Linked DNA regions of Homo sapiens: region 2 is linked to region 1. The links come from fine-mapping of genetic effects on plasma protein levels. A gene starts in region 1. The other region holds a variant in brackets. All regions are shown on one strand. Distances are between the middles of the regions. Region 1 holds the start of IL22RA1 (interleukin 22 receptor subunit alpha 1). Region 2 overlaps IL22RA1 (interleukin 22 receptor subunit alpha 1).

What was found. PIP is the posterior inclusion probability: the model's chance that the variant is causal. The UK Biobank Pharma Proteomics Project read protein levels with antibody pairs (Olink). The fine-mapping took linkage between variants from a reference panel, not from the people measured, so its PIPs are less certain.
Region 2: its variant is fine-mapped to the plasma level of the IL22RA1 protein (UK Biobank, PIP above 0.99).

What each region holds. Positions count from the first base shown.
Region 1 is chr1:24,141,928-24,144,831 of GRCh38, reverse strand. It overlaps IL22RA1 (interleukin 22 receptor subunit alpha 1), which reads left to right and starts at 1,692. Exons shown (of 7, transcript NM_021258.4): 1 at 1,692-1,792. The coding sequence starts at 1,750.
Region 2 is chr1:24,120,338-24,123,241 of GRCh38, reverse strand. IL22RA1 (interleukin 22 receptor subunit alpha 1) reads left to right here. Exons shown (of 7, transcript NM_021258.4): 7 at 1,505-2,904. The coding sequence ends at 2,437. Among named protein-coding and RNA genes, the nearest start is that of MYOM3, 9.7 kb to the right of the region's middle. RefSeq lists a silencer at 2,509-2,803. The variant G/A (reference allele first, on the strand shown) is at 941.

The DNA.
Region 1 (2,904 bases):
CACTTGGGACCAAAGCCTGCTCTTCTCCCTAAGCGTCCCTTGTAACCTGTTTTTCTCGCTGTAGCTTCCCCACACTGCCTTGTCATCAAAGTCATCAAAAACCCTCTATCCATCATGGTTCATTCAGTAGCACAGAAACCTCTCCAGTCTTTCAGACCAAGGGACTTTAATGTAAAGGAGCTCGTCACCCAGAGGATGAAGGAGCTGGGACACTAATCAGGACAGACAGTTCAGAGATTTCCCCAAAGCAGGAAGCTGTGCCATCCCACCAACTGAAAGGAAAGATGAGGGGAGAAGGTGTTGCCAGAGCCAGGAGCTGGCCTCCAAACAGGAACAAGAAAGACATAAGGGGTTGCCTGGCTGATGGACTGTCCAGAGGGAGCCAGAACTGCAGAGGGATATGGCCATTGCTGGGGAAGCCACTCAAACAGAAAACGAGGGGAGAAATGCTCTGATCTCTGCCTCCCCAGTCTTCCCCCAGGGGCTAAACCTATCAGAAAGCAGTTGATAAAGGAGTCTAGAAAATGTAGTTTCCTGCAGTTTCAGGAAATGACTGGCATGGGCCCTACCTTAATTCCTCCAAAGCACAGCTTAGATTTGGCTGTTTTGTCAAACAAACTTTAGCAATCAGGGCTGATAACAATTACAATTCAGGAAAGAAAAACTTAAACACCGATCTCAGCATATCACAGCCCATTACACCCAACCCGTTGGCAGGATCCCTGCTAAAATTTCGCTTGCCTTTGTGTGCTTGGGGCCAGGCAAACTCTCCCCAGGGGCAGGACCCTCCAATCGTGTCCACCCTGACCAGAGTCCAGGCCCCAGGGCCCTTCTACCTTCTCCAGGCCCTGCAGGAAGGAGAAAACCATTTCCTAAACACCTGTCCCTTCATTCACACGAAGCTCATGTGCAGATCCTGCCCTACGTGGCAAAATGATGGGAGAGCAGCCTGAATCTTCATCGTCCCGAACCAAAGCCCCATTCATGAAGTTCAGCCCCATCTCTAGCACAGCAGAAAGAATCACTGAAGTTTGAGTTCCATTTTTTTTCTAAACTTTTGCAGATCCTAGACCCAAAGGCTCAAGGTAAGAGCGGCTGGGCTTCCTCACCCCCAACGGCCTCTCTAGGGGAGAGCTGTTCCCAAGCCCACCCCAAGCGTGGGGACCTGCCTTGATATGGAGGATCAAGGAGGAGCATCGGGTGCCCTCAATCTCCTCCTGCCAGAAAAGCAAAGGAGTCACAGCTTTTCCTTTGCTGCAAGAAACATTCTGGGACCTTTTTTTTCCCCCTCTGTTGTCCAGTTATTTTCATCAGGGTAAATCCCCTAGGAATAGAATTATTAAAGCAAAAGATATGTATGTGGTGTAGGCTTTTGATCCACAGTGCCAAATTGCTTTTTGATAAGGCTGCATATCGTGGATTATTCTTGCCTTTTCTGCCCCTCAGCTCCTTGATAAACCACTTGGGATGAATCAGCCACCGGACCAGATAAACAAGCCAGCCTGTTACTATTGCTGTTTTCTGCAAGTCGGAAGGGAACTCCCTTAGATCCCGCCCAGAACCTGGAATTCCAGAGCACACAGGGCCAGGACACCTTTGTACCCCTGCTCCCCACCGGCACAGGTCCCACCCACCCCCTTCTCCCCGCCCCATGCCCGGGTGGAGCCAGCTGCCAGGGCGCCAAGACTCCCAGCCCTCTCTCTGTGCACGGCAGAGTAGAGGCCAAGGGAGGGCTCTGTGCCAGCCCCGATGAGGACGCTGCTGACCATCTTGACTGTGGGATCCCTGGCTGGTGAGTGCCCATCTACCCTGTGGTCAGACCTCCCTTATCCCAGGGGCCAACGATCAGGGTCATCTCCCCAGCACCCTCCCCAGCCCGAGCATAGCCAGTTTCAGTTTCTCCCCTGCTAGGGCTGAGCAGGGTGCCGGGTGTTCACGGAGAAGCAAATGCCCAGCTTAGTTTGCTGGGGGCATGAGAGGGTGCCTCAGACCCTGGGTTCTTCCAGGGACCCAAAGGACCCTCGGGTCTTGAGGGATATAGCCAGCTGTCTGAACTGGGGGTGCTGGATCGCTGCACCTCAGTGAATGGAGAATTGGCCTGGAGGAGGCAGACATCCTTCGGTCCCTCAAACGGTGTCGGCACAGTTTGTACCATCCTTCCTCTGCCTCTCACTTGGCACTGGCCTGACAGGGGAGGAGGAGGAAGGACCGGGGGAAACGAAGCTTGAGTTCACTATTGCCTCCCTCCATGCCCCTGCAGGGCCTCTTTGGCCCCTTTTGTTATCATAGATCTGAAAGAGCATTTTCTCCTAGAGTGGCCAGGTCTGCTACATTAATAGGTCTTAAGACACAGGACTCATTTGGAAACAGGTCTTAAGGGCATAGTGTTCAAAGCCAATAAAGTGAGCGGAGTGGGGGGCTCATCATTATGGAGAACGTTACATGAGACCCTAGACTCTCTCTCTGCTCTCCTGGTGCATTGCATGAAATTCAGGGAACTTCCTTAGGAAGTCAAAGCATAGTCCTGATTGAGGATGGCGAGCAGGTATGGCCTCGGCCAGGCCCTCCTTGCTCAAGTGCAGGACGAGGCCCACGAAAAGGCAGAGCTTCCCACCTTCTCTGCCACTGTCCCGCCAGGGCTGCCTGCGTCTCCAGGGCTTCCAGCTCTGTGGGACCCCCTCCAGTCTGCTTCCCAGCATCAAGCTGGGCGTTCCAGGAAGATGTGAGGCACCCCCTTGAGGCACCAAGACACGTCCCTTTAGACCCTCAGCCATACTGGTTAGAAATCCTAGAGGCTCCCAGCCCTTTGAGATGGGGGACCCCAAGAAATAGCCCTTAGGAGATTGTCAAGGGTCAGCTGCCTCGCGCTGCACACACCGGGCCCTCACCCCCCCAATCTTAGGC
Region 2 (2,904 bases), 22 kb after region 1:
CCCAGTTGTCCCCAAAATGCAGGGATCCACAGACAAAGCAGGAGATGGGCCTGCTCTCTCCATTCACGGAGCTCACAGTCCCAGCTAAAGTCAACGGACGTGTAGCCCAGCAGGTCTCAGGACACATTGAAGTGGGGTGGGTGATCAGGAATAGTAGACATGGAATAAAAAACCCACATGGCTTGGAAGTGTCCAGCACCAGGAGGGTAGTGTGGGACTTGAGTGAGCAGCAAGGCAACGAGGGAGGAATGGTGGGCGCCAGGAGAGCCGTGGCACTCATGCCCTGTCTAAATGGGCAGCCGGGCACCACCATGTGGGAATGCAGGCCCAGCACTGCCTGATCTTCATGTTTTTCAAGAGAAGCCAGAGTTTCAGATTATATTGTGGAATCTCCCAATTTTCAAATATTCAGAACTAATTTTTTAAACAGATTTTTTTTTTTTTGAGATGGAGTCTCCCTCTGTCACCCAGGCTGGAGTGCAGTGGCATGATCTCGTCTCAGCACAACCTCCACCTCCCGAGTTCAAGCGATTCTCCTGCCTCATCCTCCCAAGTAGCTGGGATTACAGGCATGCACCACCACCACACCTGGCTAATTTTTGTATTTTTAGTAGAGACGGGTTTTACCATGTTGGCCAGGCTGGTCTCAAACTCCTGACTTCAGGTGATCTACCCACCTCGGCCTCCCAAAGTGCTGGGATTACAAGCGTGAGCCACTGCACCTGGCCATTTTAAACAGAAATTTTTAAATGGCAAAACTAATTGTTAAGTGGAAAGCCCTTTGTTACAGTTCTTTTAGAATTGCTGTAGCAAGTGAAGACCAGAACCACCCCCCACCCAAAAAATAAAACCACCCCCCACCCAAAAAATAAAAATAAAATGGAAAGCCCTACATCAGCCACACAAATCACATCAGCAGCCCCCACCTGACGCCAGTGCC[G/A]CCTCTGCTAGAGCAGCAAGGCCACTGCAGAAGCCATGAGCTGAGCCACCTGAGGCACCCGGAGCCTGCTCTTGCCCATCGGAGGGACAGAGGAGCTCTGAGGGAGTTTTGCTCAATGTGCAAGTCCAGATGAAGCATTTTCTGTAAAGCTCTCCCGGTCTCTCCTGGCTCCTTCTTTTCCCACCCTGACCCTGTATTAGGCCCTCAGGGACCCGTGGGCCAAGCAACAATGCGGGCCACCACCTCGAGATCATGCCCCAAGGCAACCCCAAATCCTGGTCATCTACTCCCTGGATTATCCGCCTCCTGGAGAAACCAGAGCCCAGATCTCTCTCCCTGAGATAACCCAGGCTTTAGAACCAAAGAGCTGAGAGACCCTGTCCCTTCAGAGAGGCACTTGCACCTAGAGGAGTCTCTGGGAAGCAGATGGGGATATGGGACAGACGCATCTTGAAAAAGCCCCCAGATGCCTCCCTATGGAGGACCTCACCCACCCACATCACCAGTAGGGAGCTTGGGACTTACCCTAACCACAGGGGGGTGACTGTTGTCGTCCCTGCACAGAACGTCCAGCGAGTCCTGACTTTCCAGCCGCTGCGCTTCATCCAGGAGCACGTCCTGATCCCTGTCTTTGACCTCAGCGGCCCCAGCAGTCTGGCCCAGCCTGTCCAGTACTCCCAGATCAGGGTGTCTGGACCCAGGGAGCCCGCAGGAGCTCCACAGCGGCATAGCCTGTCCGAGATCACCTACTTAGGGCAGCCAGACATCTCCATCCTCCAGCCCTCCAACGTGCCACCTCCCCAGATCCTCTCCCCACTGTCCTATGCCCCAAACGCTGCCCCTGAGGTCGGGCCCCCATCCTATGCACCTCAGGTGACCCCCGAAGCTCAATTCCCATTCTACGCCCCACAGGCCATCTCTAAGGTCCAGCCTTCCTCCTATGCCCCTCAAGCCACTCCGGACAGCTGGCCTCCCTCCTATGGGGTATGCATGGAAGGTTCTGGCAAAGACTCCCCCACTGGGACACTTTCTAGTCCTAAACACCTTAGGCCTAAAGGTCAGCTTCAGAAAGAGCCACCAGCTGGAAGCTGCATGTTAGGTGGCCTTTCTCTGCAGGAGGTGACCTCCTTGGCTATGGAGGAATCCCAAGAAGCAAAATCATTGCACCAGCCCCTGGGGATTTGCACAGACAGAACATCTGACCCAAATGTGCTACACAGTGGGGAGGAAGGGACACCACAGTACCTAAAGGGCCAGCTCCCCCTCCTCTCCTCAGTCCAGATCGAGGGCCACCCCATGTCCCTCCCTTTGCAACCTCCTTCCCGTCCATGTTCCCCCTCGGACCAAGGTCCAAGTCCCTGGGGCCTGCTGGAGTCCCTTGTGTGTCCCAAGGATGAAGCCAAGAGCCCAGCCCCTGAGACCTCAGACCTGGAGCAGCCCACAGAACTGGATTCTCTTTTCAGAGGCCTGGCCCTGACTGTGCAGTGGGAGTCCTGAGGGGAATGGGAAAGGCTTGGTGCTTCCTCCCTGTCCCTACCCAGTGTCACATCCTTGGCTGTCAATCCCATGCCTGCCCACGCCACACACTCTGCGATCTGGCCTCAGACGGGTGCCCTTGAGAGAAGCAGAGGGAGTGGCATGCAGGGCCCCTGCCATGGGTGCGCTCCTCACCGGAGCAAAGCAGCATGATAAGGACTGCAGCGGGGGAGCTCTGGGGAGCAGCTTGTGTAGACAAGCGCGTGCTCGCTGAGCCCTGCAAGGCAGAAATGACAGTGCAAGGAGGAAATGCAGGGAAACTCCCGAGGTCCAGAGCCCCACCTCCTAACACCATGGATTCAAAGTGCTCAGGGAATTTGCCTCTCCTTGCCCCATTCCTGGCCAGTTTCACAATCTAGCTCGACAGAGCATGAGGCCCCTGCCTCTTCTGTCATTGTTCAAAGGTGGGAAGAGAGCCTGGAAAAGAA